Regions from separate parts of the Homo sapiens genome. Here all the other regions are linked to region 3. The links come from fine-mapping of genetic effects on plasma protein levels. A gene starts in region 3. Each other region holds a variant in brackets. All regions are shown on one strand. Distances are between the middles of the regions. Region 1 holds the start of LOC102724684 (a long non-coding RNA gene). Region 2 overlaps COL15A1 (collagen type XV alpha 1 chain). Region 3 holds the start of COL15A1 (collagen type XV alpha 1 chain). Region 4 has its middle 170 kb from the start of NAMA.

What was found. PIP is the posterior inclusion probability: the model's chance that the variant is causal. The UK Biobank Pharma Proteomics Project read protein levels with antibody pairs (Olink). The fine-mapping took linkage between variants from a reference panel, not from the people measured, so its PIPs are less certain.
Region 1: its variant is fine-mapped to the plasma level of the COL15A1 protein (UK Biobank, PIP 0.99).
Region 2: its variant is fine-mapped to the plasma level of the COL15A1 protein (UK Biobank, PIP 0.97).
Region 4: its variant is fine-mapped to the plasma level of the COL15A1 protein (UK Biobank, PIP above 0.99).

What each region holds. Positions count from the first base shown.
Region 1 is chr9:98,876,348-98,884,453 of GRCh38, forward strand. It overlaps LOC102724684 (a long non-coding RNA gene), which reads right to left and starts at 986. Exons shown (of 3, transcript XR_930168.2): 1 at 955-986. The variant TG/T (reference allele first, on the strand shown) is at 3,733.
Region 2 is chr9:99,069,716-99,077,821 of GRCh38, forward strand. It overlaps COL15A1 (collagen type XV alpha 1 chain), which reads left to right. Exons shown (of 42, transcript NM_001855.5): 42 at 1-1,072. The coding sequence ends at 171. Among named protein-coding and RNA genes, the nearest start is that of TGFBR1, 31 kb to the right of the region's middle. RefSeq lists enhancers at 2,023-2,523, 2,524-3,024 and a cis regulatory region at 5,409-6,127. The variant G/C (reference allele first, on the strand shown) is at 3,348.
Region 3 is chr9:98,943,603-98,951,694 of GRCh38, forward strand. COL15A1 (collagen type XV alpha 1 chain) reads left to right here and starts at 305. Exons shown (of 42, transcript NM_001855.5): 1 at 305-470; 2 at 560-648. The coding sequence starts at 460. It overlaps COL15A1-AS1 (COL15A1 antisense RNA 1), which reads right to left and starts at 1,050. Exons shown (of 1, transcript NR_198999.1): 1 at 1-1,050.
Region 4 is chr9:99,544,501-99,552,606 of GRCh38, forward strand. No RefSeq gene overlaps it. Among named protein-coding and RNA genes, the nearest start is that of NAMA, 170 kb to the left of the region's middle. The variant C/T (reference allele first, on the strand shown) is at 3,397.

The sequences.
Region 1 (8,106 bases), 67 kb before region 3:
CAAAAAGACACCTGCTGGCTGGTGGGGTGTCCTGGAGAAAGGCCACACCCATACCAGGCACCAAGGCTGGTGTGTGATGAATGTGGAACCCCTGGACCCTTTGCAGATGGGGTTCTGGAGATACTCCAGCCTCAGCAAGGGGAGGAGCATATGCTCCAAGCTTGCCAAGTGGGTGGTTCCTGCGGTTGGATTTTGGGGCACACTCTGCTCTGGGGAGTGGAGCTCACAGAGCCATTTTCAGTCCCGGTAAGCCCCCAGTTTCCTTCTGCCACTCTGAGCTCTCTTTACCTATTCTTCATCATCGGGACACTTGTGCGTCTACACTGGCAGTCATGGGATTTTTTTTTTTTTTTTTTTTTTGAGACAGAGTCTCACTCTGTCATCCAGGCTGGAGTGCACTGGTGCTATCTTGGCTCACTGCAACCTCTGCCTCCCAGGTGCAAGTGATTCTCCTGGCTCAGCCTCTCGAGTAGCTAGGATTACAGGTGCATGCCACCACACCTGGCTAATTTTTGTATTTTTTTTTTTACTAGAGATGGGGTTTCACCATGTTAGCCAGGCTAGTCTCGAACTCCTGGCTTCAAGTGATCCATCCACCTCTGCCTCCCAAAGTGCTAGGATTATAAGCATGAGCCATGGCGACCGGCCTGGTCATGGGATTTTAAAGCAGGCAGGGGCCCTGGAAGGACCCAGTGGGCCAGTCCATTGACCCTGGTTTGAGTCACAAACTCCTTGGAGAGCCTCAAGGGAGCCATGGCCCCTGTCACTAGGAGAGCACACCTGTGTGCACACACACATAGACACACCTGACCATTCTCAGCTGCAGGAGCCTCCAGGTGCAAGATTCTGCCTTAGAAGGCTCTACAGCACCTCCGCCCTTGGTGCACACCCTGGGGGATGAGTTCTTACTTTCTGCCGTGCCTGCCCGGGGCTTCGGTGCACCACCCCAGTTACCTCTTTTTATTGGAGCCGACTCTGCCTCCCAGTGGCTTCTTTCCATGGGTCATTGTTCTGCTCCTCAGAGCCACCTGGAATGAGGTCACCATGTCCTCTCTGTGACACAGATGAGAAGCTAAGGATCTACATCCCCTGGAGTTCGCCCCTCTCCATGGTGTTCAGCTGTGGCTCTTTCTTCGCAGGGCGGGCATCCAGACCCTTCCCAGCCTGTCTTGGCCCCAGGCCCATTCCTGTTTCTCATTGTTCTCATTAAGGGCTGGCCCCCAAAACACAGAATTCCAGGTGCAGTCTGGCCAGCCCAAGGAGAGCAGATCGCTCATCCCGTTTGTTCTGGATGTTGGCCCCCATTAATGTAGCTCTGGAGACAAACATAACACAGCAGATACACTGAGCTGGGGGTCAACTCAGACTCCCAGATTGTCTCCCTGTAAACAGCTGTGCAGTCACATCTCCCCTTTCCTCTTTGTAGTATTTGTGAGGTTTTAGATGGAAATCCCAGTTTATACCAGATATTTGGTTTTCAATCATGCTCCTTTACTGCTCATAGTGCCCTCAGCCAAAGGCATTTCCACCCTGAGCTTCAGTTTCCTCACAGATTTGTTGGGATGGTGAAATGTATAAGGTCAATGTTGGGGCTTGGAAGGGTATTCTCTTTCTGTGTGTTGTTGTTTTGGAAAAGATTTCTGGTTGTTTCCAAAATCCATTTCATCCCTTTTACATGGAAATAAAACTTTCACCTTGGTGTGCAGATGCTCAGCATGAGACCATAATTCCCAGCCTGTCTTGCGCTACATGGAAGGACTGGGCAAGCAGCGTGCAATAGTCTCTGCTTATCCACACTTCCCACAGTTTCTGTTACCCAAAGTCCAGAACGGTAAGTGATTTGGGGAGAGAGAGAGAGAGAGAGAGAGAGAGAGAGCGAGAGAGAGAGAGGGAAGTCACGTTCACATATTTTTTTATTACTGTGTATTATTATAATTGTTCTATTTTATTAGTTACATTGCTAGTCTTTCACGGTGCCTCATTTATAAATTAAACTTTATCATAGGTATGTATGTATAGGAAAAACATAGTGTATATAGGTTTGGTACTATCTGCAGTTTCAGGCATTCACTGGGGGTCTTGGAACGCATCCCCCACAGATAAGAGGGACTCTTGTACTCAATTTCCAGTTGTGCCTTTGAAGAGAGGAGTGTGTCCTCTTTCGTTACCTGCTCCGTGGATGGAGCATAGATGTGTGGGGCGCTATCTGGGATACCTGGATGAGTACAGCCCCTTGGGATGGCAGAGCAATAAGACAGAAGCAGCCTGGGCCCCTGATGACTTCAAAGAGCTGCCTCAGCCTCCTCAGAAAGACTTTCTTTTTTTCTTTTTTTTTTTGAGATGGAGTCTCTTTGTGTCACCCAGGCTGGAGTGCAGTGGTGCAGTCTCAGCTCACTGGAACCTCCGCCTCCCGAGTTCAAGCAATTCTCCTGCCTCAGCCTCCAGAGTAGCTGGGATTACAGGCGCGCATCACCACGCCCGGCTAATTTTTGTATTTTTGGTAGACACGAGGTTTCACCATGTTGGTCAGTCTGCTGTCAAACTCCTGACCTCATGATCCGCCCACCTTGACCTCCCAAAGTGCTAGGATTTCAGGCATGAGCCACCACATCTGGCCAGAAGGACTTTCATGTGAGTGAGAGATGAACTCCTATTCTGCATACGCCGTGTTATATGTGTTGCTCAGCTGAGCCTTGTCACAGCCTAATCAATGAGTTTTTTTGAGGCATTTTATTTAGAAGAGGCAGATACAGGCTCAAATCAATAGGGAAGAAGAGAGGGACTTGCAAATACTCTAAAGCCAATTTTTTTTTTCTTTACTTCTGCTTCTTTCCTTCCCTCCTGCCATTTCTCCCCTCTCCTTCTATCCAAACTTTGAACGCTTATTGAGTTCATTTTCTGTACCAGGCTTTCTGCCAGGCACTGTGGATACAGAGATGATTAAGACACACTGTCTGCTGTAGACTAGCAAGGGAGACAGAGGGCATGTAGACATGCCCTCAAGTCCATGTGACAAGATCACCATGGAGGGGTTTACAGGGTGATGGGTGGACTCAAAGAAGCAGCCACCTCTTTTGCTTGGAAAGGTGGGAGGAAGGGAGTCAGAGGATTACGTCTTGAGTTGATCCATGTGGGCTGCATAGAGGTTCTCCAGAAAGAGAAGAGAGGGAACAGCATTCCAAGCAGAGGAAATAGCTTGTGCAAAGTACTAGAAGTGTGCAGGAGCATTGAGCGCAAAGAGCTGTGGGCTCTTTGTGGTGGGAGTGAGGGGTGGAAGACAGCTGATCAGGGACTTGCTTTGCAGCAAAGTGCCCTGCCAGAAGTCAGCTCCCTTCTGAGGAGTGCTGAGCATGGAAGAAACAACTGCTTTGCAAACAAACACCTCATGTATTTATTTCCTCTGTTTTCCTCACATCTCTCATCTTTTCCCCTGAATGAGATGCCTCCTGGTTTCACTTAATTTCCACAGGAAACTGGAAGGAGCCACATCTGTCTAAATTCTCCCTAACTCACTCCAGATTTTCAGGGTCAGAATATGGCCGCTGAGAGTCAGGGTCTCTGTGGGGTCAGAGGTGACAGCCCCAGAATTGGGGTCTTGTGCCGAGCCCCTTATGGCAGGGGAGGCCAGGCATCAGTTCCCTGCACGATACAGATGTTCAGCAAGGATTTTGTTGGGAGCATAATCAGCGGCCAAGGCAGCCCCTGGAGAGGGGAATGTGGGCCTCATTCCCA[TG/T]GGCTCCTGCCCAACGTTCCTTCGTTCCTGAGTTTTATGTTCCTGGGAGAGGCTGGAGGCCGAGCAATGCTCCAGCTCCACAGCAGCTGCCCCCTTCTCGGAAAGGCAACAACCTCTTTCCTCACATGGCCTTGGGACGTTGGACACCCAGCTCGGGGACATTGTTTTGTTCACAGCTGCATGCTCATGGCATTTATTTAGGGGACACTTTCTCTTCTGCCACCTACAAGGAGGCAGCTTGGAGCAGAAGGAGCAGAGCTGAGCCTCCAGAGATGGAGGTCTGTTCCTGGAGAAAGTGGCTCCCTCTCTTTGAGGCTCAGTTTCCTCATCTGTAAAACAGAGCAGGCTGGCCCAGGTGGCATCTAAGGTGATGTGTGAACAGCTGTGGACTTTGGAGTCATGCAGACTTGTGTTCTGCCTGGGCCAGTTGGCAGCTGCGTGGCCGTGGGGAGGTCCTGAACCTCCCCAGCTGCGGTGTTCTGTCCTCATCTGTGCATGGAGGACATGGGATCAGGTCATCTTGAAGGGCCTCGAGGGCTTAGTGATGAGGCCAGGAGAGCCCACTCTCAACAACGATGCTGAGGAAAAGCATTTTGTGTTCTCCCTCTTGGCAAAATATTTATAATTCTATGCCTGTTGGAACCAAGCAAGGTCAGCACAAAAGAATTGGCCCTCCACTATCCTAAGAAAACTAAAGCAGGAACAGTAGAGCAAATACCACATGCTCTCACTTGTAAGTGGGAGCTAAACATCAAGGACACGTGGCCCCGAGGAGGGGAACAACAGGCACAGGAGCCTACTTGAAGGTAGTGGATGGGAGGAGGGTGAGTTGGGTGCTATGCTCATTGTCTTGGTGGCAAAATAATCTGTACAGCAACCCCCTGTGACACTCAATTTACCTATATAACAAACCTGCATATATACCCCTGACCCTAAAATAAAAGTTAACAAAATAAATAAGTAAAACAAAACATATGGGAGACCGAGGCGGGTGGATCACCTGAGGTCGGGAGTTTGAGACCAGCCTGGCTAACATGGTGAAACCCCATCTCTACTAAAAATACAAAAATTAGTCGGGTGTGGTGGCACGCACCTGTAATCCCAGCTACTTGGGAGGCTGAGGCGGGAGAATTGCTTGAACTCGAGAGGCAAGGTTGCAGTGAACCAAGATCATGCCACTGCACTCCAGCCTGGGCAACGGAGCAAGACTCCATCTCAAAAAAAAATAATTTTTTTAACAAAAGAAGAGGCATCCATGATTTACCCTTCCTCCCACCCCTTGCCCCCAGTCTCCACAGATCAGTGGACTGTTTTTTCCAAAGCATAACTGGATGACTCGTTGGGTTGTCCTCTTCCTGCACCCCACCTTACTGTGTCCTCTCACTCACCCTGACCCCTTTCAGACCCTTCAGCAGTCCAAACTACAGCCTCTTCTGGAGCTTGCATTGTCCAAGGGTGACAAGAAGCAGCCCCAGTGGGTGAGGATGGGAGGGCAGGGTGGGGGTTTAGCTCCTCCAGCATCTTCATGTGCATCTCCCAAACCCTCCATCTCAGAAATTCAGGGTGCTATTGGTGTGTGATGATGTTGAGCCATCCAGGTCCCCCGTTCAAGGTGCTGGCAGTCCCCTGTGCCTGCTGCACTCCCGCCCTCCCCACCCACTGCTCCTGCTGGCTGCCTCCCCTCTTTCAGATCTTGGTGTCCTGTCACTCTCCATCCTGATGCCTTGTCTGTCCCCCATCTCATCTTTCAGAGCCCCGGGTGCTTTTTCTTTGGAGAACTCATCATATTTGTAGTTATACATGGGTCTCGTCCTCTCCCATTTGATGCCTGGCTCTTGCAATGGATTATAAATGCCAGGAGGGCAGAGGCCATGCTGGCCTTACCGTATTCCCATTGCCTCACATAGTGCCTGGGAAATAGTTGGCTCTGGACAAATCGTTGTTGAATGACTGAAGAAATGAATCACCCAGTGAATCTAGAATTTGGTGGCAATGTGAGCGCAACAGGAAGGCAAGTGGCCGCAAATCATGTTGTACTAGTTACAGACTTTGGCACTAACATGGTGGGCACTCAAATCCTAGTGGTGACCCTGGGGACTCCAGGAGGGCAGGCTATTTTCCCTCTCAGCCCCACAGAGGAGAGTATCTCAAGAAAGAGAAGGTGTTCACCTGTGTTGAGATGTTCCTGAAAGGCCAAGGAAGAAAAGGACTGAGGTATGTCTATTGGACTCAGTCACAGGAGGTTATGGTGACCTTGACAAGAACAGTTTTAAAGGACTGGGGAGTCGGAAACCAGACTGCAGGGGAGGGAGCAGGAGTCAAGGAAGTGGGAATTGTGAGTAGAAATTACTCACGGAGACTATTTCTAGACACTAGACCAGGAATGGGAGGAGAGATGTCATTAGCTGTTTCTTACCAAGAAGGATCACATCAAAATTCATTTGGAAAATTTTTGGAATAATAAAAATGATTCATCTACTAGATGGCCAGCAAAATAAGATGCCTCAACCCCTAGTCCTACTTCTCACCAAAAACTAGACTATGAGAATTGAAGGGACCTCAAAGGCCAGAGGATTCCAACACAGCCCTCTCATTCCATAGACGAGGTGCCTGAGGCCCAGAGAGGGTCAGGGATGTGCCCAAGGTCACACAGCAGATGAGGGGGAAAGACAGGTTTTGAAGCAGGCTCCTGTATGCTCAGCCCATGGCTTTTTCCCCATATTCCATGTCTTTCTTTCCCCTGTCCTTTCTAAACAGTCGTTATTGACTCCAGGAAATGGGAAAGATAGTTATTTTTAGTTTATTCAAAATGAGTAAAATGGGTAATGTTTTTTTTCTCCCCAATATATCAGATCCGAAATATGTCTTATGTAAGAGCTAACTGGGATGAGAAATGGTCGCACAGTGAGAACAAAGATTTCTTTGACTATTAAAAGTTCCAGAGTGAACCCTAAACTGGCCCAAATAACTGGGCTCAGCTCTCCTTGCCTAGCTGACAGAAGAAGGTTGGGCAGGGCTGTGTGTGTCTGTACATGTGCAAGTGTGTGTGTACAAGTGAGCACAAGTGTGTGTATAACAGGCTCCCTCTGTGGGGTGATTTCTAGAGCACCAAGACAAGCACCCTGAATCTGAACTTCTTTGATACTATTTATCATCATCATCATCATCATCATCATGAGTAATTCTACTAACATATGTATAAAATTTACCATCTTAATTATTTTAAGAGTATACTTCAGTGTGTTAAGTACACACATGTTGTTTGTTGTGCAACCATTACCACCATCCAGAATTTTCCAGAAAACTTTTTATCTTGCAAAACTGAAACTCTGTACCCATGAAACAACAGCTTCCCATTCCTTCCTCCAAGGCCCTGGAAATCACCATTCTAATTTCTGACTCTATGAATCTGACTTCTCTAGAGACCTCCTGTAAGTGGAATCATATGATGTTTATTCTTGTGTGACTGGCTCGTTTCACTCTCAGGACTTCTTTCAGTGTGTGCTCCTCATGCCCCCAACACCCCATGAGACACCCTCATTTCAATACCTCTTTGAGTGTTTCCTTGTGCCCCCAACTGCCCATGAGACACCCTCCTTTCAGCACCTCTTTGAGTGTGATCCTCGTGCTCCCAACCCTCCATGAGACAACCTCCTTTCAGTACCGCTTTGAATGTGATCCTTGTGTCCCCAATACCCCATGAGACATCCTCTCCTTTGGCAGAGGATTTGATCCTTGGTTGAAGAGTGGCAAGCAACCCTGGGAAGGAAGCATTTCAAGCTTTATTGGAACTTTTTCTTTAGTGCCAGTCAATGGATAATTCCTTGAGAGCAGGTTTTGATAGGGTAGGGGTGACCCTAGTTGAAAGCCCTGATTGATTATGGGTGGGAAGAGGGAGAGACCTGATGACAGAGAAAAAAAATTGTTCTGCCTGGAAAAATGTTGCTGGGATCATTATAAGTGAATCCACGAAATAGCAATTAGTTTTATAACAAGCCACTTCTGACATTTATGTCCCTAGGTGTGTTGACCTCATGTTATGCTCTGACTTGATTCCTTGGGGAGTCATAAATTAAGTGTCCTCAAAGGACTGCTAGCAATAATCATAATAATCCTCTTGTATTTTGGTTGCATTCTACACTTTGGGACACACTTTCATTTATATTATTTTATTTGATCAAAATGACAACAATGTGTGCTCGTTAGAATATGACTTATCATCTTCATTTTTCAGGTGAGGAAGCCGAAGTTCAGTGGGTGGAAGGGACCTGCTCAGGCTTGTACAATCACTTGTTGGTATCACTGGATTGAGAACCCAAGTCTTTAGCCCAGGCCTTTTTCCACTGTTCCACATTTTGCTGGAGTTTTCTCCC
Region 2 (8,106 bases), 130 kb after region 3:
CGCCTTGTGGATAACTACTGTGAAGCATGGCGAACCGCGGACACAGCGGTCACGGGACTTGCCTCCCCGCTGAGCACGGGGAAGATTCTGGACCAGAAAGCATACAGCTGTGCTAATCGGCTAATTGTCCTATGTATCGAAAACAGTTTCATGACAGACGCTAGGAAGTAATGGCCTTCTGATGATTCTTAAAGAGTTTTCAATTTTTTCTTATGTGAAGAGTTGACACTGAAATCTAAAATGTTTAATTGTTGTAAATATTACAGTTTTTTTTTTTTACTACATATTCTTTACAACAGCAACCAAAGAAAACATACCTCAATACACTCAAAACTGAAGACATAGAGGACTCAGATCAAAGACAAAATCTGATCCATATATTGGTGCTAGATTCTGCAGGAAACCCCAGCAGTGTGAACGCATCCCAACATAGGTTAAGAGCAAGTTGAAAACAAAGGCCATGGCATTCTGCCACTGCATCCTTCAGACAGTTATATCCTCCTTTTAAACCATTGTTGTTGAGTGTAAGATGTCCTTCATGTTTTCTTATAAAGTCAGTGTTTAGAAATGTTACCCTTTCTAAGTTATATACAGATCAAATGCTTTTTTCTTTCACGTACATCCATCATTTGCAACTGCTGTTCGTACACAGAAACAGGACTGCTCAAATGATCCTATTTGTATTTTCTGATGCTATCAGACTCTAATGTTTTTTTCCCTAAAATATTATTGCCATCATGCTTTAGGAATTTTATATTTTTACACAATCATATTTTAGTATGGTGTCTGTTTATGTAACTCTGACTTGCTGGAAAAGTTGAAACTCCAAATAATCTGAAACTAGAAAAGAAATAGCACATAATTACTACCTTCCCCTTGGCGGCTCTCCTCCCCAACCCCCACCCCACAATTTTATGACTTCCATTTGGCAATTGTTGAATTATAACTGCGACTGAAACAAACAGGTTCATAGAGATGAATTTTCTGAGAAACATATATCTACATGTTGTATAATTGGATTTTTTTTCCATGTAAGTGAACATAAAAACATCTTTTCCGGGTGCTTTCTTCATTTGACTTTTTCCCGCTAGTTCCTTTATTCTCCATCACTGATGTGGAAGCAGACCTGGGGTGGGTTTGCTAATCCTGCCACTTGTGCTGCCCCCAGGCGATGATCAGAGAACTGAAACGTTTTCCCATCATGCTCATCTGCCCTGGCTGTTGTCTTCCACCTAGTGGGGCCAGTGTAGGTTGTGTAGAGCCTCAGAGTGGGAAACAGGATGAGCTGTGATTCTGCCACCGTCTCAGGGCATGACTTTGGGCAAGTCGGCCTCTGTCTCTCAAGGAGATTGGGATAAGACAAGCATAGTATTGGCTACCAGTCATTAAATATCAGACTTCTGATATATCCCATTTCATTTTCATAATAACCCTGCAAAGTAGTTTTTTAATCTCTACTTTACAATGCAAAAAAAAAAAAAAAGTCAAAGCTCAGGGAGTTACTTGTTCCAGATCATACACTGGTGAATGGCAGGGCTGGTTTCAGACTCAGGGTCTGCCTCACGTCGGGGCCTATGATCTTCCCAAGGAACCCCTATGCAAGCCTGCCTCTCTGCTCCCTCCCAGCTGCAAGCATGTGATTCTCTGGCTCTTGGTCTGACCCTCTAGGAGAAACATAATCACCAGGCAAGAAGTATGCTGGGATATTTCCTCCCATTCAGCTGGGCTGGCCCAGAAGCTCAGCAAAGTGAATCCGCCCTCAGAATCCTTGAAGTAGGAAGGAAATCAAAGAGGAAAAACAAAGAAAAAAAGGCAGCCCAGAATCTCCATGTAGGGGCTGCATAAATACATGAGTGGTGAGAATCTTCCTAATGAGTCACAGAATGAAGACTGTTTGAGGCTGGAAAGCCCGAGAGGTGGTTTTTGAGGACCAGCCCATCCGTTGAGTGATGAGGGCTGGGGGTGCTTGGTATGGACAGGAACTGCAAGGGGAAGGCGGGCAGGAGGCTACCAAGGCCACGAAGCGCAGACACCGTCCATTTCTGTCACAGCCCACCTGGCCCAGAGTTACAGAAGAGGCAATGTGAGTTGGGGTTTTGGGGAGGAGCCCAAAGTCAGGGAGACCTCATTTGCTAACCCTGGAAAGAGTATTGAGGCTTATGGCATTGCCATTCAGGCCTCTCCATGCACCAGAGGAGGTATAACCGGCTGACCCAGAAGGAGGCCCTGAGTCAGCCCCAGCCCCATTTAGACTTGGAGAATGAGTGTCAAAATCCTGGACCTGACATTCACTAAACACCAGCCCTTGCCCAAGCTTTCCCGTCACATGTTGAAAACCGTCACCCTGGTATCCTCAAGGTCACTCAGACAAGCCACAGAGGCTCCTCTGCAGGCTGTGTCATCGGAGCCCCACCCCATCTCAGGAAAGCCTTAAACACTCCGGGCCTAGCCTGGCCCTTCTGCCAACGGCCAGCACATCTGTGATATCCCCCAGCTCCCAAACCTGCCTGCCTTTCCTCATACTTCCTCCTCTGAACACCTGACATGTGTAGCATCCGAGTCTTGTTACACAGTTGAAACACAATGGCGGAAGGGCCTCTAAGCCTTCACTCTATCCCATGCCTGGATGTCTCAAATGTGCCTGAATGCTGAGCCAATTAACAGTCTCAGGCATGATAAGGGAGGGAAGAATTGTCACGAGTAATTCATCTTTATCGTGCTAGAGGTCTTTTGGAGACTTGCTGTGAGTCCATACTGCACACCCTCAGGGTCTGAAGCCTGCAGCAGCCAAAGCCCCTACCCAGCAACAGAACCAGAGGGATAGAAACAGCTGCCAGCCCATGTCAGGGGCCAGGCTCCATAAGGTGGCAGACTCTGGAGGGTGCACAGGAGCAGAGGGTCTGAGCAGGTATGTGGGGAGAGCATGAAGGAGGTGGTCCAGGAGAATCCCCCTGGCAACCTGGACGTGGCCACATAGAGTAGACCGAAGAAAAACCCAGGGAACAAGGAGAATGGGCTGCAGGAGCCATCCTTGCATTTCCCGTCTCCTCCTGGACTTCATGTGGCTAGCATGGTGTCTCTTGAACCTGTAAAGGGTGTAAGTCAGAGACAGCGTGGAATTCTGGGAACCATCAGCAATCCAGTACAGCTGAATAGCAGTCAAGACACTTTCTATTAGTCCATAAAGGGAACACAACTCAAATTCACAAGTTTTTTTGTTTGTTTGTTTTTTTTAAAGAAATGTATTGGCTCATGAAACCAGGTAGGACGGGGATGCAGAGACTCAAGCAACGTGGCATGACAATGTGGTCACTCACTCTGTTCTCTCTCTCGGTGTGTGTATGTGT[G/C]TGTGTGTGTGTGTGTGTGTGTGTGTGTGTGTGTGTAAGACTATGTCTATCTGTCTTGCTTCTCTTTTTCTGTGAATATGGCTCCTTCCATCCAAGTGAGGACAAGATTCATGCGGCAGAGATGTCTGCAAACAGCTCTAGGCTTATGTTATTCCACCACCCCAGAGAGTGGCTCCAGAGGAAAGAGAAGACTTCCTCTCCCACTGGGATGATACGAATTCCTGGAAAGGACTCTGATTGGTTCCAACTGTATCACAGGCCCATGACTGTGTTTGGCAGCCCCCACCCCAGAAATGAGTTGGGCAGAAGGAATAATTCCTCCATCCAAAATGCATGGGGATTTGCAATGACCTGAAAATGAGGGATAGAAGGTTGACAGGGCCAACAAAATAGATTCTACCACACACAGCAGCAGGGAAGATCAAGTGTGGGGGACGTTGCAGTGAAATAATAGACAGAGGTGAGATCATGCTGGCCTTGAAATCCAGGATGAGGCATTTAGACTTTATCCTGCAACTGACGTAGTAGTTAAGAAGAAAGTACTTAGGCAGATAGTGAGGGTACAGGAATCCTCAGTAAGGTTTTCCTTTTAATGAAAAGCAGCCCCAAAATCAAGTTCTTTCTCTTCTTCTTCTTCTTCTTTTTTTTTTTTTTTTGAGATGGAGTCTCACTCTGTCACCAGGCTGGAGTGCAGTGGCACAATCTCAGCTCACTGCAACCTCCGCCTCCCAGGTTCAAGCGATTCTCCTGCCTCAGCCTCCTGAGTGGCTGGGACTACAGGAGCATGCCACCATGCCCAGGTAATTTTTGTATTTTTAGTAGAGACAGGGTTTCATCATGTTGGCCAGGATGGTCTCGATCTCCTGACCTCATGATCCGCCCGCCTTGGCCTCCCAAAGTGTTGGGATTACAGGTGTGAGCCACCACACCCAGGCAATCATGTTCTTTTCTAACAAAGAGCAGCCTGTAAAATTGAGCTGCAGACATAGACAAGCAAGCTGGAAGCTTGCACAGGTGAATGCTGGCACTTGTGTCAATAGGAGAAGGCTACCTGGGACTAGGCATGATCAAAATGATGGCTCCATGTTCCCTTCTCTTTGCCAGCCACGTGTACAGTAAGGAGCAGACAAGATGGCGCTGGCCAAGTGGAAGGCCCATTTGCAGAATAAGATTAGGGTGGGGTGACCAGCCTTCCCCAAGTGCTATGTAAACGTCGCATCTGGTCAAACCAATCTGTGGGCCCTACTTAAGTCAGACACCGCCTCCTCAAGCCTGCATGCATATAAAATCTGCTGCAGGTTTTCCGTTTCAGTCACCTCTTCCTCATGAGAGGGAAGGCTGCTCTCCTCTCACCTTCCTATTGCCTATTAAACTTTCCGTTCTTTGACCCACTCACATGTGTCCCTGTCCTTAAACTTCTTGGTGCAAGATGACAAACTCCGAGACAATGTTGCTGCTTCACAACTGGTAGGGCACCTTGGGAATATTTAAATGAGGTAAGAGATGGTATTGGATCCATGTTTGAGAAAGATCAAGCAGGTTTTTTGTTTATTTGTGCACTCATTCAGAAATATTTCTTGAATAATAATTTGTACCCAGGATCATGTTTGGACTTGGGAGTACAAAGATAAATGATGCCCCCACTTTTCAAATCTACTAAGTCCATTCTAATGCCACAGACTGTTTCAAATCTCCTGTATATTTCCTGCCACCTGCTCTCCACCTCCTCAGAAACCCTACCAGTGGGGGACAAGCACATGCATGCAGTCCTTGTCTATCCTAACAGCTGGAGAAGTACTTTTCTGGTTACCCCTTGAGCTCCTGGTCCATCAAAACACCACTGAGCCTCCTCAAACCTCTTTGATAGCCACTAACTGATTTTCTCCTTTTGCTTTCCATCTTGTACTCCAATTTATAGGGCCGGTAAATAGAGAGATGCCTTGGTCTGTGTCTGAATTTTGGTCCTGCCACCTACTAACCATGTAATCATAGCCAAGCTACTGAAAAACTCCAAGTTACTGAAAATAGTCCTCCACACTCAGTCCTTCCCTGCAGCTCAGTTTCTTCATCTGTAAAAGGGGGACATTCATGGAAACTACTCTCCTTTCAGTTAATTTACAGGAAGCACTGGGAACAGCATTCTGGCCCCGTGTAAGCGTCCAATCAGTGTTTGCTATCTTTGGCCTGTTCCAGTTGTCTCTCAGTAGGAGCTGGGGGAAGGTCTCTCCTTCAACCATCCTAGCTGGTGTCTTCCAATCTGCCTGGCTTCTCTGCCTGTCTTCAGGCACAGGGCTGGGACTCAATGTATACATAGCAGTACAGCTCTGCCTGCTGTTGGTAAATATCCGTTGTCCCACGACCCCGAATGTCTGGACTATCCTGGCCCTCTGCTCCTGCCCTTCATAATCCAACAAGTAAAATGTTATCATCTGGCTCATTAGCGGCTGCTGACAAGAGGGCTGAATTCCTTCTGATAGACAGGCACACATGCCACAGCGACTGTTTAGTCATCTCATCATCCCCCTGCATGAGCCTGCTGGGGGCCCTGAGTTCCAAGAAGGACCCAGAGCACCCTGTTATCTGATATGTTTGTGGGAGGAAATTGCCTCCCTCTCCTCTCCTTCCAAACTTGTGCCTTTTCCTCTGGTCCTTCTCTTAGTGAGTGGCTCCACCATCCAGCCAGGAGCCTAGGAATCTTTTATTTATTCAACGATATTGACTAAGTGTCTCCTTAGTAATAAAAATAACAACAATAAACCATAAAATAAGTGCTAGGAAGCTCTGCAGAGTTGGGATATTTTTATGATGACTACTTTGATTTTTTTTTTTTTTTTTTTTTGAGACAGGATCTCACTCTTTAACCCAGGGTAGAATACAGTGGTGTGATCATGGCTCATTGCAGCCTTAATTCCTGGGCTCAAGTGATTCTCCCACCTCAGCCTCCTGAGTAGCTAGGACTACAGGTGTGTGCCACCAGGCCTGGCTAATTTTTAGTACATATACATATATATATATATGCATATGTACTAATATATGTATGTTTAGTACATATATATGTTTGTAGAGACAAGGTCTTGCAATGTTGCTCAGGCTGGTCTTGAACTCCTGGCCTCACAAAATTCTCCTGCCTCGGCCTTTCAAAGCGTTGCACGTGGTGGTCTTCCCTTGAGGCAATGTGGTGCTGGCTCTTTTCTTATCTTCCCTAGGACTGTTGCTCACATCTCCTGGCCTCTACAGTTCCATCTCCTCCAGTTCATTCTCCACACCAGGGGAGAGAGCTTTCTAGAAAGCCTGTCATACTTAGTGTTTTGATTTGAGTTTCCCTTTAGAGGAGGATTCATTAATTTCTCTGCAAGGCGATCCCAAGAAACAAGGTAAGAGAGCAGAGAAATGAGACAGGGATGGGAAGGAAGATTTTAAAGGGTGCATCTAGTTCTCACTGTGAGTGACTAGATCACACTGTCCTCTTAAGGGTTCTGGGAGCCCGTGCAGTCTGGCACCTCAGAGTTTCCAACCAAAGGGACAAGGATGTTATGGTCTTCATACACCAACCCCTCTCAGTCTTTGAAAAACAGGAGGGCGAGGCACTGGATGAGATTCCAGTACTTCTGGCCTGCTGCACACGACAGAGTGGGCTCAGCTGCCACAGAATGCTCTCAGGCAGACACGTGGATGCTGGCAGTGGGAACTTGGGGGTTTATGGGCGGGGCACCCCAGAGACTGCAGTATCAGGCCCAATCTAGCAGGAAGTCACACAAGGTTTACTTCAAGATAACACTTTGAGCTTACAATACTTTCCTCAAACCTTACTGAAATGATAAAAACAACAGAGAAAAAACAAAAAACAAACAAAAAAAGACCTGCAACCCCTTGTTAAAAAAGGAAGAACTATCTCAACCTGGCAGAAACTTTGAGGACTTTCTGGAAGATAGAAACCTGCTATGATTGGCTATCCTATAACCACAGCAGCAAAGGCAGGGCCTGTCTTCGAGTCCCTCCTGAGGCTGATAGCCACAGGAAAGTGCCAGTAGAGGCTGAAACAGAAATAAGCTGGGAAAAGGCTGGGGGGAAGCTCATAGAGACTTGTGCAGTTGCTGACAGCACCCAGAAGACCTATCAGTCCTTTCAATGTGGGCTTTCATATTTATGAACATCAGTACAGAACAACAAACACCAATTAATCATTTGAGGAGATCTAGCAGCCTCCAAAAGGGAATCAACAGTTAATCAGAGCCAATGGCTTCTGTTTCGAAAGAATGATTACAGAAAACAGGAGATAACTTTTAAAGATTCAAATTTGTATTTTCATCCAACTCCACTGGAAACAAGGAAAAGAAAGCAAATTGGTATTCTCAGTAAAATTTCAGAGAGTAAAAGAAGCATGAAATGAAATACTGGGAGAATAAGAAACAGTCCTTGAAAATAAAAGAACGACTGTATCACCAGAATAAAATAGAACTACAGCATATATGCTACTGAAACCTGATTTAATGAATTGTTAGATCAAAAGAATTAATATAATTGCTCAAAGGACACAGACAAAAAGATAAATTCATGAAATAAAAGATGAGGGAAGGAGATAGACATAATGTTTCAATATTTATATAACAGGAGTCACAGAATAAAAGAGAATATTAGATGGAAGAGAAGTACCAGTGAACAAAAGAAGTTTGGTGCGGTGGCTGGAGCCTGTAGTCCCAGCTACTTGGGAGGCTGAGGCAGGAGGATCTCTTAAGCCTGGAAGTTCAAGACCAGCGGA
Region 3 (8,092 bases):
GGCTGTGAAAGAGTGCTTTCTTGCGGGTCAGCCCCGACAGGACAGACTTAAGGGCGGGAGGGAGCCCATCCCGCTTGCCCCAACGAACGCGGGCGCGGGGCTTTCCTCGCAGGTTACATAAGGCAGCCGCGGGTGGAGGCAGCAGAGGCGAGCGCACGTCCGTCGAGGGGGAAAGGGGCGTGGGGAGGCGGCCGGGGCGGCCGGTATCCCCCGGGCGTGAGTGCGCAGCGCGCGGGGGAGCGCAGGGCGCGGCGGAGTCGGGTTTCAGAGCGCGGGTGACTCGGGGCGCGGGCCGGGAGCCGGGATTCTGCCCGCCGCCGCCGCTGCCGAGCGCCGCCTTTGTTCCCTGCAGGAAGGGCGAGCGCGGCGGCCAGCGCTCAGCGACCCTTCGTCCTCCGCTAAGCTCCAACGCTCTGCTCGACTAGCCGCGCGCCTTCCGGGGCTCCGCAGACCCGCGAGATGGCACCAAGGTAAGACCCGCTTCTCTGCTTCCTCGCGTCCCGGGCCCCTCCAATACTCTTGCCCGCCTCACCTTTTCTCCCTCGGGCACATCTTGCAGGAGGAACAACGGGCAGTGCTGGTGTCTGCTGATGCTGCTCTCGGTCTCCACGCCCCTCCCTGCTGTCACCCAGACCCGCGGTGCGACAGGTAAGCAACCCGGTCGGAGGGTGGCACCGGCTGCCTCCGCGCCCGTGGGGGAAGTCGGTTTTGGCGGCGGACGCGGCTGCGATGCGTGCCTCATTCCTGGACATAAAAGGGAGTCTTGCCACTCAGTGCGCACTGGCGGTCCCGCGGGCGGCTACCTCCTGGCAGTGCAGGGGTTATAGCTGTGAATGGGATCCCTGGGCAGCTGGGGCGGTTGGAGCGTTGTCTGGGCACCCGAGATGTCTGAGCTGGGTGCGGAGCCTCCAATCTTAGGCAGAGAGGGACTTCAGAAACAGCGCCAGCGCCAGCGCCAACAGCCTCAGCGCACCCAGCGCCAGCAGCTTAGGTTGTGCGTGCTGGCTGGCTTCTGGTAAGGGCAGGTCTGGTGCCTCTCCGCACACAGGTGCGAAGCATGAACACCGGGAGGGACATCTGGGGCTTTTGCTGCTCAAGAAATAACGGAACTGAATTGCTCGGTTGCTTAACCCAGCTCTGAGTTACCTAAGCGGTCACGTCTATCATGGGCAGTGGCTCCACCGGTGGTGGAAAGAGCTGTGGCCTGGAAGCCAGAGATCTGATCCCTTCCGTTCCCCGGGCCTCAGTTTCTCCAGCAGAACTCAGGCGGTTGGCTGAATAGTAAGATATAAGTTAAAGTAGACCTAAGTTAAAATGGGCCTCGGTTAAGGTCAGACTGCCTGGGTTTGAACTGTGGCTGGCTGAGTGATCTTGGGCAATGGATTTCATCGCTCTGTGCCTCAGTTTCCCCATCTGAAAAAGGCGATTAATTAGACCATTTTACCTTCCTAGAAATGTTGTGAATATTAGAGAAATTAGAAATAATGTGCTTCCCATGATTCCAGTATATACTAGGCACAAAATAAGTGATAGAAATTACTGCTTGATTCTTGCAGTAACTATGTGTTGGAAAGCAATGCAAGTATTTTTATTTTTATTTTAGATTCAGGGAGTGGTCATGTGTGGTTTTTTACAAGGGTATATTGCACGGTGCTGAGGTTTGGGCTTCTATTAATCCCATCGCAATGCAGGTATTTTTATAACATTGAGGTTGAGAGAAGCTTAGAAAGTGGCCAGTCCAAAAGCCAGGACTTGAATCCAGGTCTGTAGGCTCTTGCCCTTGCTCAGCTCTTTCTCCATGCAGTTTTGCAGAAGAGCCATGCTTTCTATAGCTTCTGACCCCCTCCCCTTTGAATTTGGGGGATTAGTACACATCTTCAATTGAATAAGGGAACAGAAAGTCTAGGAAACAACCTCTAGTCGGCCCAAAGGAAACGGGATTGAGAAGGTGGCCTTGGTTAACTCTTTGTTTGCCTGAAGAAGCCCAAGACAGCCCATTGTCTCCTGGGCAACAAGACCCAAATCCGATGATAGCTTTTCCTGCCAGAGTGTCCAGCCTGGCATTTATTGCAGATCAAAGGGCAGCTGGAGTATAGTTTTAGCTTCTCAGCCCCATGGCTCATGTCAGAAAGTTGCAATTTTGCATATGATATAGGGCCCTGCCAACTCAGTGGCAGAGGCCAACTTTGGGTTCCATGGTCTTTTGTGAACTTTGCTGCAACTTCCAGTTTCCCAAAAGGAAGATGGATCTGGGGATAGGAACTTTGGTGTTTCTTTCTCCTCCTGTGTGTGTCTCTGGGATCCCTCAGTGTCAGGGCTGTTGTTTCTAACACAAAGGAAGCCCTATTCCCATTTATAATGTAAAAAGGGAGGGCCAGCAAACCTTCAGGAGCTGAGAACGGTCTAAGGAGGGCCATTTGCAACTGATGGGTTTTCAGTGCCCCTTTGGGGATGTGAAACGATTCCTAAAAATGTAAACTATCCTCCTGCAAACTGCATTTGTAATGCAATTTAATATCCCTAATACTTATAAAACACTTTGTATATCCAGGTGGAGGTGTGAACATGTTCATATTTCATTCATCCAATCCTTACAACCACTCCAGGAGGTGAGGACTGAGAACAGTTACTATCTCTGTTTTTCAGATGAAGAAACAGAGGTCCAAAGTCACAAGACTTCTAAGTGGCTGGGGTGGGATTTGAACCAGACAGTCTGACTCCAGAGTCCTTGCTCTTAACCATCCTAGTGTGTAGTTAGAAGAGCTTCACGGATGGAGAAGGCTTTAGGGGTTCCATGGTCTCCAATGAGCCCCACAATCTGAATGTCACAATTGTAACATGAGTCCATTGCATGGCATTGTGCAGTCTTCAAAGCACAATGTCACCTTCACCACGTCCCTGGAATCACCACCCAGCAGTGCTGAGAAGTAAATTGGGCTCTGTCTTACAGAGGGGATGTGACTTCCTCAAGGCCGCATGACTGTAACTGGGTAGATCCATAATAGCCCTCTCACGTCTGTGAACTTCTGGGCTGGTGCTGTTCCTTCCATAGGACCACTGCCCAACTGGCTATAAAAAACAATTGCCAAGACTTCATAGCACTATGAACCAGCAGTGTTTTAAGTGCCCTGCCATGAATGAGCTCAGTCAATCATCACAACAACCCCATGTCTTATCCCCTTTTACAGATGAGGAAACTGAGGCACAGTCTTTTGCCCAAGGGCATGTAGCCTTCAGTAATATAAGCACAATTTGAGCCCAGAGGGTCTGACTCCAGAATCTGTACTTGTAACCACTATGCTGTATGCTTAAGTGGGGTGGCTTCTGAAAGCATGTTTGTAAGTGGGCTGTTATGAGCGGAAATACATGTTCCCAACGATTTGGCAGTTTCTTAAAATGTTAAATATATACTTACCCTACAATCTAGAACTTCCACTCCTAAGTATCTACTTAAGGGAAAGGAAAGCATATGGCCACCCAAAAACTCATATGTATGTTCATAGCAGCATTATTTATAATGACCAAAACTGGAAATAAAGTTAAATTCACCATTAGCTGGTGAATAGATAAACAAATGAGGTGTATCCATTTAATGGAATACTACTCAGCAATAAAAAGGAATGAAGTATTGATCAATGCTACAACAACATGGATAAACCTTAATACCATTAAGCTAAGTAAAAGAAGCCAGACATTAAAAAGCAATACATTGTAAGAGTCCCTATATATGAGATTTCTGTAAAGGCAGAACCACAGAGACAGAAAACAGAAGCAGAGATTGACTGCAAAGGGGCATGAGGAAACTTTTTGGGGAGTGTTCTAAAACTGGATTGTGGTGGTAGTTGTGCAACTCTATAAATTTACTAAAATAATCTAACTATACATTTAAAATGGGTGAATTTTATGGAATGTAAGCTATGCCTCAATAAAGCTGCTTCTTAAATAAAAGAATGTATTTTCCCAGAGCATCTAGGCCCCAGATCTGGTGGGGCTTCAAGGTGGGGTTCCTAGCCAGCCTGGTACAGAGCTGGCACACAGCTCACAACTTAAAAGCTGCTGGCCTCTTAGGGCATTGATTCTCTCAGAAAATGGGTCCAGAGTTCTGCCTGCACCTCCAGGTCTCTGGATCGACTCTCCCTACTATCCCTGAATGCCATTGTGGGCCCAGGACAGGGCTCCTCAGGTAGGGGTAGAACACATGCATATGGGTTTTTTGCAGGTAGTTGATCTGTTAAAAAGTGGGTCTTTGTAAACTTCCTGATATCCTGCACGCCCTAAAACAGCACAAGTTCAGGTATTGGAAAACCTGGGTTCCACTCACTGACTTCCTCCATGAACTTAGATGAGTTGCTTTTCCCACTCTGAGCCTGTTTTCCCATCTACGAAGTGGAGAGGCAAGAGTCACTCATCTCTGTAGTCCTAATTTAAAATGTTGGGAAACAAAACAAAATAATATTTTTCTAGTTTGAGGTTTGATTATTTCACATAGTTTAGTTCAACAAACCCATTCTGTGCTGGCCCTCATGCTGGCTGGGTACAGAAAGGATTTGGGCACAGAGCTGCCCCAAAGGGGTCATAGTTCACAGGAAGAAAGAAAGGGCCACAGACAACTGTAATGCCATTTTTCCTGAAGTCTTCTCATCTACCATGCAGAATGTCCTGTGTGCAGCCAATCCCATCCTTCTACACCATCCTGTTTAAAGACACACTTGTCGGCCGGGCGCGGTGGCTCACACCTGTAATCCCAGCACTTTGGGAGGCTGGGGCGGGCAGATCATTAGGTCAGGAGATTGAGACCATCCTAGCTAACACGGTGAAACCCTGTCTCTACTAAAAATACAAAAAATTAGCCAGGCATGGTGGCGGGCGCCTGTAGTCCCAGCTACTTGGGAGGCTGAGGCAGGAGAATAGCTTGAACCTGGGAGGCGGAGGTTGCAGTGAGCCAAGATCGCGCCACTGCACTCCAGCCTGGCAACAGAGGGAGACTCTGTCTCAAAAAAAAAAAAAAAAAAAAAGAGACACTTGTCAGTGGGTGTCACCCACATGGCCTCTTGTACCTCCAATGGTCAGGGTTGAGCTGGAGGACAACACCAATCCTTCCTTTTCCTGGTAAAGTTTCAGGGTCATTGGAATACCCAATATTTTAGAAGATAAGGGGGCTATTGTCCAGGTAGGGATGGTGGTGTCACAAGTAATTTGCTCTTGCTAATAAAGTGTTGATGATTGCAAATTATTTGCTTATGTTTAAACTGTTTTATTGTGAAATACAACATCCATTCAGAAAAGTGCATGCTAAAGGTACAGTACAATCTTGTATCACAGAGCAAACATGTAATCCAGATGAAGATATAGGATAATCCCCAGAAGGTCTCCTAAACCCCTTTGCTGTGGTTTTATTTTCCCTTCTTTCTCTCTGAGGTAACCATTACCTTGACATTAACAGTCATCCCTTTCTTGCTTTTTAAAAATAGCTTTACTATCTAAGTGTGTATCCCAAAATTCTGAAGTTCTGTTTTACTCGATTTTGAACTTTTTAAATGCAGAATCTATTCTTTCATGTCTGATTCTTTCAATGAATAATAAGTTTTTGAGATTTATTCATGCTGCTGTATGTGGCTGTAGTTCATTGCCATTGCTGTATAATAGTCCATTGCATTAGCATAGCATATGTTACTTATCCATTCTTCTCCAACATTTGGGTTGTTTCCATTTTGGGCTAATGTAATAGTGTCGCTCTGAACATTCTTGTACATTTCTCTCAGTGCACATGTGCATGAATTTCTGTTGGTTCTATACCTACGAGTGGAGTGCTGAATCAGAGTGTGCATATCCCCCAACTGAGTAGACAATGCCAGCATGTCTTCTAAATGGTTGTACAGATCCACACAGCTACCAAGAAATGAGGGCCTCCATTTCTTCACATCCTCACCAGCACTTGATCTTGTCACTGAGCTTAACTTCAGCATTTCTAATGGGTGCATATTTGATCTTACTGTAGCCTTAATTTCCATTTTCCTAATTATTAATTACCTTTTCATATGTTTATTGACCATTTAGATATCCAGACTTACTTTTTATTGAGGTGAAATTTACATTATATAACAGTAACCATTTTGAAGTGCACAATTCAGTGTCATTTAGTTCCTTCACAATATTGTGCAATCAACATCTCTATCAAGTTCCAAAACATTTTCATCACCCCAAAAGAAATATCTATGCCCATTAATCAATTGCTCCCCATTCCCTCATTTTCTCAGCTTCAGGCAGTCACTAAACTACTTTCTGCCTCTATGGACTTGCCTATTCTAGATATTTCATGAAAATGGAATCATACAGTGTATGACCTATTGTGTCTGACTTCTTCCATTTAACATAAAGTTTTCATGGTTCACTCATGTTGTATCATGTGTCAGTACTTCATGCCTTTTTATGACTGAGTAATATTCCAGTGTATGTATATACCAAATTTTGTTTTTCCATTCATTTGTTGATGGACATTTGGGTTATTTCTACCTTTTGTTTTTTGTGAATAGTGCTGCTCTGAACATTTGCATACAAGTATTCGGATGCTTGACGGCCTGTTTCTACTTCTTTGCACCTAGGAGCAGAATTTCTGGTCATATGATAATTCTGTGTTTCAAGTATGACGAACCCCCAAACTGTTTTCCACAGTGGCTGCACCATGTTTACATCCCCACCAGCAATGTATGAGGGCTTTAATTATGCACATCATCGCCAATGCTTGTTTTCAGTTTTTAAAATTATAGCCATTTTAGTGGATATAAAATGGCATCTCATTGTGGTTTTTATTTGCAATTCTTTCTTTCTTTCTTTTTTCTTTCTCCTTCCTTCCCTCCTTCCTTCCCTCCCTCCCTTCCCTCCTTCCTTCCCTCCCTCCCTTCCTTCCTTCCTTCCCTTCCCTTCCTTCCTTCCCTTCCCTTCCCTTCCCCTTCCTTCCTTCCTTCCTTCCTTCCTTCCTTCCTTCCTTCCTCCCTCCCTCCCTCTCTCTCTTCCTTTCTTTCTTTCTTTTGACAGAGTCTCACTCTGTCACCCAGGCTGGAGTTGGTGGCCGGCCCATCTTGGCTCACTGCAACCTCCACCTCCCAGGTTCAAGCAATTCTCCTGCCTTAGCCTCCCGAGTAGCTGAGACTACAGGCATGCCCAGCTCATTTCTGTATTTTTAGTAGAGATACAGTTTCACCATATTGGTCATGTTGGTCTCGAACTCCTGACCTCATGATCCACCCACCTCGGCCTCCCAAAGTGCTGGGATTACAGGCGTGAGCCACTGTGCCTGGCCTATTTGCAATTTTCTAATGACAAATGACGTTGCGCATTTTTTCAAGTGCTTCTTGGCCACCATCTTCTCTGGAGAAATCCTGATTTAATGGGAAGCATATGAATCAGAGCAGCGCAGAACTTCCCTCTAACCACCCCACTCTTGCTCCCTGGCAGTCTGATTTGCTTTTCTGAGTGAGAGAGATGTGGGTAGGAGTCACACCTGAAGTTTTGCCTCATTGACCTGCAGTCTCCATCTCCCAAAGGACAATTGTCTAGAGCTGGCCACTTTGTCCAGAGCTGGACTTTAGCAATTTGTCATTATTATAAATAGTGCTGCTGGGACATCTTCAGACAAATGGCCTTTTTCTTTTGGATTATTTCCTTTGGCAATATTTCCCCCCAAAGAACTCACCCATCAAAGAACAGAACTGGTTGGACAGTTCTTACTATGTATTTAGATGGATTTTTCTTATTTAATCATGATGCTTCCTAGTATAATTGCCCTCACTGGGTTCTCACTGTACCTGAGATGGAGTCATGCTCCTGGCCCCAGAGGACCCTGCCTTCCTCCACTAACACTAAGTCCCTATGGACTTCAGCTCACATCAAATCACTGGCAGGCTTCTGAATGGGACATGCAACGTCCCACACCTGTGCTTTTGCATAGGCTAGTGCCATTTTTATTCTATTATTATTTTTTGGGACAGGGTCTTCTCTGTTGCCCAGGCTGTAGTGCAGTGGTACAATCTTAGCTCATTGAAGCCTCAAAGTCCTGGGCTCAAGGGATCCTCCTTCCTCAGCCTCCTGAGTA
Region 4 (8,106 bases), 600 kb after region 3:
TCAAGGCACAGACAGATTTAGTGTTTGATGAGTCCCAGTCCTAATAGATGGTGACATATAGGTATCCTCACATGGTGGAGGGGTTGAAGAATAAAAACAGTCAGGCAGCTCTCCGAAGGCACATTCATGAGGACAGAGCTCTCATAACTTAGTCATTTCCCAAAAGGCCCCATATCTTAATACTATTGCATTAGGGATTAAGTTTCAACATGAATTTTGGAAGGAAACAAACATTCAAATCATAGCATTCTGCCCCTTCCTGCTTCAAAAAATTCATGTCCTTCTCACAAATAAAACACATTCATTCCAACCAAATAGCCCCAAAAGTCTTAACTTATTTCAGCATCAACTTTAAAGTCGAAGTCCAAACTCTTCTAAATCTGATATGGGTGCAACTCAAGACACAATTCATCCTGAGGCAAATTCCCCTCCAGCTGTGAGCCTGTGAAATCAACCAAGTTATATGCTTCTAAAATACACGGTGGAATGGCATAGAATAGACATTCCCATTGCAAAAGGGACAAACAGGGAAGAAGAAACAGGTAGCAAGTCCCAAGAAAGTCCAAAATCCAACAAGACAAACAATATTAAATCTTAAGGCTGGAGAATAATTTTCTTTGACTCCATATTCCATCTTCCAGACACACTGGGGCAGGGGTTGGGCTCTGAAAGCTTCAAGCAACCCTGCCCCTGTAGCTTTGCTGGGAGCAGTCCCTGCCTCAGCTCTCCCAGTCTGTAATTGCATGCTGGCAGCTCTAAGTCTGGAGTCTCAGGGGTAGCCCTACCCCATGGCTCCAGTAGACATTGCCCTAATGGAGACTCTGTGGTGCTCCTGTCCTCACAGCTCCTACATTCTGTGTGCCTGCAGAGTTTGCACCACATGAACACCACCAAGGTTTACAGCCTGTGCCCTTCTTGGGGTAGGGTGGGGATGTGATGGCACATCATACTGCACCATTGCAGCCATATCTGGGCTGGCTGAAGACCCCTGTGCTGGAATGCATGGAAAGAAACATGAGGCATCCTTGGACAGTGAGCCCTTAGGTCCCATGGGCATCCTCAGTCCTTCCCTTGAAACTGACCTCAAATCCCTGGCCCTCTGGGCCTATGATAAGAATGCCAGCCTTAAAGATTTCTAAAATGCCTTCAGGGTCATTCTTCTTTATTTTGATGAACAGCACCTGGCTTCCTTCTAGCCATATTAATCTTCTTAACAAAAGGGTCTCTTGGCTGCACCCTTGATATTCTCTTTTGAAAGCACTTTTTCTTTCTTCTTTAAAAAATGTTAAATGCTACTTTAATTATGTCAATTTCCTACTCCAAAACCTTCAGTGACTTCCTATTGCCTTTTTGTAAAGCAAGGTTTAAGGGAAATGGTATACTTATCTGTTACTGAATCTTATTTATTGATTAATATTATTTCTCTTCTTTTTTAATTTCTAATTTTTGTGGTTACATAGTATGTGTACATATTTATGGGGCACATGAGATATTTTGATACAGGTATACAATGAATAATAATCATATCAGGGTAAGTGGGGCATCCATCACCTCAAGCGTAACCTTTGTGTTACAAACAATCCAATTATATACTCTTTAAGTTATTTTAAAATACAACTATTATTGACTATAGCCATCCTGTTGTGCTATCAAATGCTAGAACTTATCTATTCTTTCTATTTTGTTTTTGGACTCATTGAGCAGCCCCACTTTCCCCCCACTCCTCCACTACCCTTCCCAGCCTCTGGTAACCATTATTCTACTATCTTCATGAGTTCAATTGTTTTAATTTTTAGCTCCCACAAATAAGTCAAAACATACAAAGTTCGCCTTTCTGTGCCTGGCTCATTTCACTTAACATAATGACCTCCACTTCCATTCATGTTGCTGCAAATGACAGTATCTCATTCTTTTTTATGGCTGAATAGTACTCCATTGTGAATATGTACCAAATTTTCTTCATCCATTCATCTGCTGATAGACACTCAGGATGCTTCCAAATCTTGGCTATTGTGAATAGTCCTGCAATAAACATAGTAGTGCCGATACCACTTTGATATTTACTAATTCCCTTTTTTGTGGGTATATACCTAGCAGTGGGATTGCTGGATTGTATAGTAGTTTTATTTTTAGTTTTTTGAGGAAGCTCCAAACTGTTCTGAATAGCGGTTGTACTAATTTACATTCCTACTAACAGTGTATGCGGATTCCCTTTTCTCCACATTCTCAGCAGCATTTGTTATTACCCATCTTTTGGATAAAAGCCATTTCAACTGGGGTAAGATGATATCTCATTGTAGTTCAGATTTACATTTCTCTGATGATCAATGATGTTGAGCACCTTTTTGTGTATCTGTTTGCCATTTGTATGTTTTTATTTGAGACGTGTCTATACAGATCTTTTGCCCATTTTCAATCAGATTATTCGACTTTTTTCCTATAGAGTTGTTTGAGCTCCTTATATACTCTGATTATTAATCCCTTGTCAGATGGGTAATTTGCAAATATTTTCTCCCATTCTATGGGTTGTCTCTTCACTTTGTTGATTGTTTTCTTTGCTGTGCAGAAGCTTTTTAACTTGAGGCAATCCCATTTGTCCATTTTTGCTTTGGTTGCCTGTGCTTGTGGGGTATTACTCAAGAAATCTTTACCCAGACCATTTTCCTGGAGGTCTCCCCAAAGTTTTCTTTTAGTGGTTTCATAGTTTGAGGACTTAGATTTAAGTATTTAATCCATTTTGATTTGATTCTTTATATAGCAAGAGATAGTCTAGTTTCATTCTTCTGCATATGGATACACAGTTTTTTCAGCACCATTTCTTAAAGAAACTGTCCTTTCCTCGATGCATTTTCTTAGCACCTTTGTTGGAAATGAGTTCACTGTAGATGAACGGATTTATTTTTCAGTTCTCTATTCTGTTCCATTAGTCTATGTGTCTATTTTTATGACAGTAGCATGACATTTTGGTTGTTATAGCTCTGTAATATAATTTGAAGTCATACAACATAATTCCTCCAATTTTGTTCTTTTTACTCAGGATAGCTTTGGCTATTCTGGGTCTTTTGTGGCCAAAAAAACTTTAGGATTGTTTTTTTTCCATTTTTGTGAAGGATGTCATTGATATTTTGATAGGAACTACTTTGAATCTATAGATTGCTTTAGGTAGTTTGGATATTTTAACAATATTGACCCTTCTAATCTATGAACATGGTATATTTTTCCATTTTATTATGTCCTCTTCAATTTCTCTCATCAATATATTTTATAGTTTTCATTGTAGAAATCCTTCCCTTCTTTGATTAATTGCTAAGTATTTTATTTTATTTGTAACTATGGTAACTGGGATTAATTTCTTGATTTCTTTTTCAGATTACCCACTGTTGGCATATAGAAATG[C/T]TATTGATTTTTGTACGTTGATTTTGTATTCTGCAACTTTACTGAATTTGTTTATCATTTCTAATAGCATTTTGGTGGAGTCATTAGTTTTTTCCAAATACAAGATCATAACATCTGCAAACAAGAATAATTTGACTTCTTCCTTTCCAGTTTGGATGCCCTTTATTTCTTTCTCTTGTCTGATTGCTCGATCTAGGACTTACAGTACTATATTGAATAACTGGTGAAAGTGGGTATCTTTGTCTTGTCCCAGATCTCAGAGGAAAGGCTTTCAGTTTTTCCCCATTCAGTATAATTCTAGCTGTGGGTCTGTCACATATGGCTTTTATTATGATGAGGTATGTTCCTTTTATTACCCTGTTTTTTAGGGTTTTTATCATGAGGGGATGTTAAAATTTATCAAATGCTTTCTCAGCATCAATTGAAATGATCATATGGGTTTTGTCCTTCATTCTGTTGATAAGATGTATCACACTGATTGACTTGCATATGTTGAATCATCCTTGCATCCCTGGGATAAATCCCATTTGGTTATGATGAATGATCTTTCTAATGAATTGTTGAATTTTGTTTGCTAGTATTTTGTTGAGGATTTTTGCATCAGTGTTCATCCAGGGATATTGGCCCGTAGTTTTCTTTTCTTTTTTTAATGTGTCTTCATCTAGCTTTAGTATCAGTGTAATATCAGCCTTGTAGAATACATTTTTGGAAGTATTTCCTCCTCCTCTATTTTTCAGAATAGTGTGAATGAATCAGTATTAGTTCTTCTGTAAATGTTTGGTAAAATTCAACAGTGAAATAATCATGTCCTGGGCTTTCTTTGCTGGGAGACATTTTATTACAGCTTTGCTCTCATTACTTGTTATTGGTCTATTCAGGTTTTAGATTTGTTCATAGTTCAATCTTGGTAGGAATTTATCCATTTCTTCTAGGTTTTCCAATTTATTGGCATACAGTTGCTCACAGCAGCCTCTAATAATCCTTTGAATTTCTGTGGTATTTGTTGTAATGTCTTCTTTTTCATCTCTGCATCTCTGATCTTATTGATTTGGGTCTTTTTTTTTTTCTTAGTCCGGCTAAAGGTTTGTTGATTTTGTTTATCTTTTCAAAAAACAACTTTTCATTTTGTCAATCTTTTATATTGTTTTATTCATTTTAATTTTATTTTTGCTCCTATTTTTATTATTTCATTTCTTTGACTAATTTTGAGTTTGGTTTGCTCTTGCTTTTCCAGTTCTTTAAGACGTATCATTGGGTTGTTTATTTGAAGTTTTCTATTTTTTTGATGTAGGCATTTATACCTATAAGCTTCCCTCTTAGTAATACTTTCACTGTATCCCATAGGTTTTGGTATGTTGTGTTTCCATTATCATTTGTTTCAAGAATTTTTTAAATTTCTTAATTAATTTAGTCATTGACCAACTTGTCATTCAGAAGCATGTTGTTTCATTTCCATGTGTTTATGTAGTTTGTAAAATTCCTCTTTTTATTAATTTCTAGTTTTATTCCATTGTGATCAGAGAAGATACTTGATATTATTTCAAATCTTTAAAAATGTTTTAAGGCTTGTTTTGTGGCTTAATACATGGCCTATACTTGAGAAAGATCCATGTGCTGAGTAAAAGTATGTGTATTTAGTAGCCATTGGATGAAATGTTCTATAAATATCTACTAGGTCCATTTGGTCTATGGTGCAGATTAAGTTCATTGTTTCTTTGTTGATTTTCTCTCTGGATGATCTGTCCAGTGCTGAAAGTGGGGTGTTGAAGCCTCTAGCTATTATTGTATTCAGGGTCTATCTACTTAGCTCTAATAATATTTGCTTTATCTAGCTGAGTGCTCCAGTTTTGGGCACATATATATTTACAATTGTTTCATCTTCTTGCTAAATTTACCTGTTTATCATTGTATAATGACCTTCTTTGTTTCTCTTTATAGTTTTTGTCTTGAAATTAATTTTGTCTGATACAGTATAGCTACTCTTGCTCATTTTTTGTTTCTTTTGGCATAGAATACCTTTTTCCATCCCTTTATTTTCAGTCTATGTGTGCCTTTATAGGTGAAGCATATTTCTTGTAGGCAACAGATCATTGGGTCTTGTTTTTTATTCATTAAGCCACTGCATGTCTTTTAATTGGAGAGTTTAGTCCATTTACATTCAATATTATTATTAATAAGTAAGGACTTACTCCTGCCATTTTGTGACTTGTTTTCTGGTTGTTTTGTGGTCTTTTTTTCCTTCCTTCCTGTCTTCCTTTTAGTGAAGGTGATTTTCCCTGGTGGGATGATTTAATTTCTTGCTTTTTATTTTTCATGTATCCATTGTATGTTTCTTCATGTGGCTTGCAAATGATTTCTTATAACGCATTATTTTAAACTGATGACAACTTAACACTGATTGCATAAATAAACAAAGAGAAAACTCTACACTTTAATTTTCTCCCCCCATTTTTTAACTTTTTGTTGCTTCTATTTATATTTTATTGTACTGGATATGTCTTGAAAAGTTGTTGTAGTTACTATTTTGATCCAGTTCATCGTTTCATCTTTCTACCTAGGATATGAGTAGCTTGCACAACACAATTAGTGTTATAACATTCTCTGCTTTTCTGTGTACTTACTATTACCAGTGAGTTTTGTACCTTCAGATGATTTCTTATTCCTCATTAACTTTTCCTTTCAGATTGAAGAACTCCTTTTAGCATTTCGTGTAGGACAGGTCTGGTGTTGATGAAATCCCTCGGGTTTGGTTTATCTGGAAAAGTATTTCTCCCTCATGTTTGAAGGATATTTTCACCAGATACACCACTCTAGCATAAGATTTTTTTTTTCCTTCAGCACTTCAAATATGCCATGCCACTGTCTCCAGGCCTGTAAGGTTTCCACTGAAAAGTCTGCTGCCAAATATATTGGAGTTCCATGGTATGTTATTTGTTTCTTCTTTCTTGCTGCTTTTAGGATCCTCTCTTTATCCTTGACCTTTGGGAGTTTAATTATTAAAATGATTTGAGATATTCTTCTTTAGGTTAAAACTGCTTGGTATTCTATAATCTTATAGAACTTCAATATTGATATCTTTCTTCTCTTGAGAGGTTCTCTGTTATTATCCCTTTGAATAAACTTTCTACCCCAATCTGTCTCTCTACCTTCTTTTTAAGGTCAATAACTCTTAGATTTTGAGACTTTTGAGACTATATTCTAGATCTTGTAAGCATACTTCATTCTTTTTTATTCTTTTTTCTTTTGTGTCCTCTGACCGTATGTTTTCAAATAGCCTGTCTTCAAGCTCACTGATTCTTTCTTCTGCAGAATAAATTCTTCTATCAGGAAACTCTGATACATTCTTCAGTTTATCAATTGCATTTTTCAACTCCAGAATTTCTGCCAGATTCTCTTTATTTCAATCTTTTTGTTAAATTTATCTGATAGTATTTTAAATTCTTTCTCTGTGTTATCTTAGATTTCATTGAGTTTCCTCAAAACAGTTGTTTGAAATTATTTGTCTGAAAGGTCACATATCTCTTTCTCTCTGAGATTGGACCCTGATGTCTTATTCAGTTCATTTGTTCAGGTCATGTTTTCCAAATATTCTTAATGCTCATGGATGTTTATTGGTGTCTGGCATTGAAGAATTAGGTGTCCTCACATGGTGAAATAGTGGAACAGCAAAAGACTAGGCAGCTCTCATTAATCTCATTCATGAAGGTGGAACCCTCATGACTTCATCACTTCCCAAAAGGCCCCATCTTATAATAGTATTACATTAGAGGAATATGAATTTTGGAGGGACACAAACATTCAAACCATAGCACACACTGATATAAGAATGCTTATGTAGATTTTTTAATAAATATGATGTTTTGTTGAAATTTGTACAGGATTCATAACATGAAAGATGTTTTTTATCTATATCTTTCTGCACATTCTATATAATAAAATATTTTCATAGTACTTTATAATTTACAAGGAATATTTATATGTTTTCTCATTTGATCTTTAGTTTTTTCTTGAAAAACAAAAGAATCTTTATAGATAAGGAAGCATGGCTCAGACAGGTAAGGTGACTTATGTATGTCTTAGAACAATGCATGGAAGAAAAAGGATTTGAATTCTAGTATAATTCCAAGTCCAAAGTGTTTCCAAGCACCTTCTAGATATCCGGCACTAGGAAGGGCAAGAGGAATAGAAAATTGAATGAGATATCAAGAAGCATACAATGTGGTGGGAAGATAAACAGAGAAGACAGTGTAAAGTAATTTGACAGAGGAATATACAGGATGTTATGGAAGCTCTGAGGAAAGGCTCAAATATCAGCTAAGAAACATGAGGAGGGCTTATAAACTGAGTCTTAAAGAATGACTGAGATTGAGCCACATAAAAGATAGAGAAAAATGGTGATGAATTACAGACAAGGGAAGAACATGAGCAAATATCTGTAGTCAGTCCTGCCTGGTTGGGGTGGTGGGGAATGTGAACTCCATGGAGTTCCTTGTTGCCAAAGCAGAAAGAGTCAAGTAGGAGGATTGATTGATGAGACAAAGACATCTACAGATATTAGATCATGGAAGCCCTTATATGTGAAGAGCCTAGACATGTTTCTATAGATACCATTCAATTATTTAAATCCTTTAAGAATGAGCTTGGTGTAGTCAGATTTGTATTTTATTAGATTATACTGACTATCCTATAAGGATAGACTGAAAGTAAACA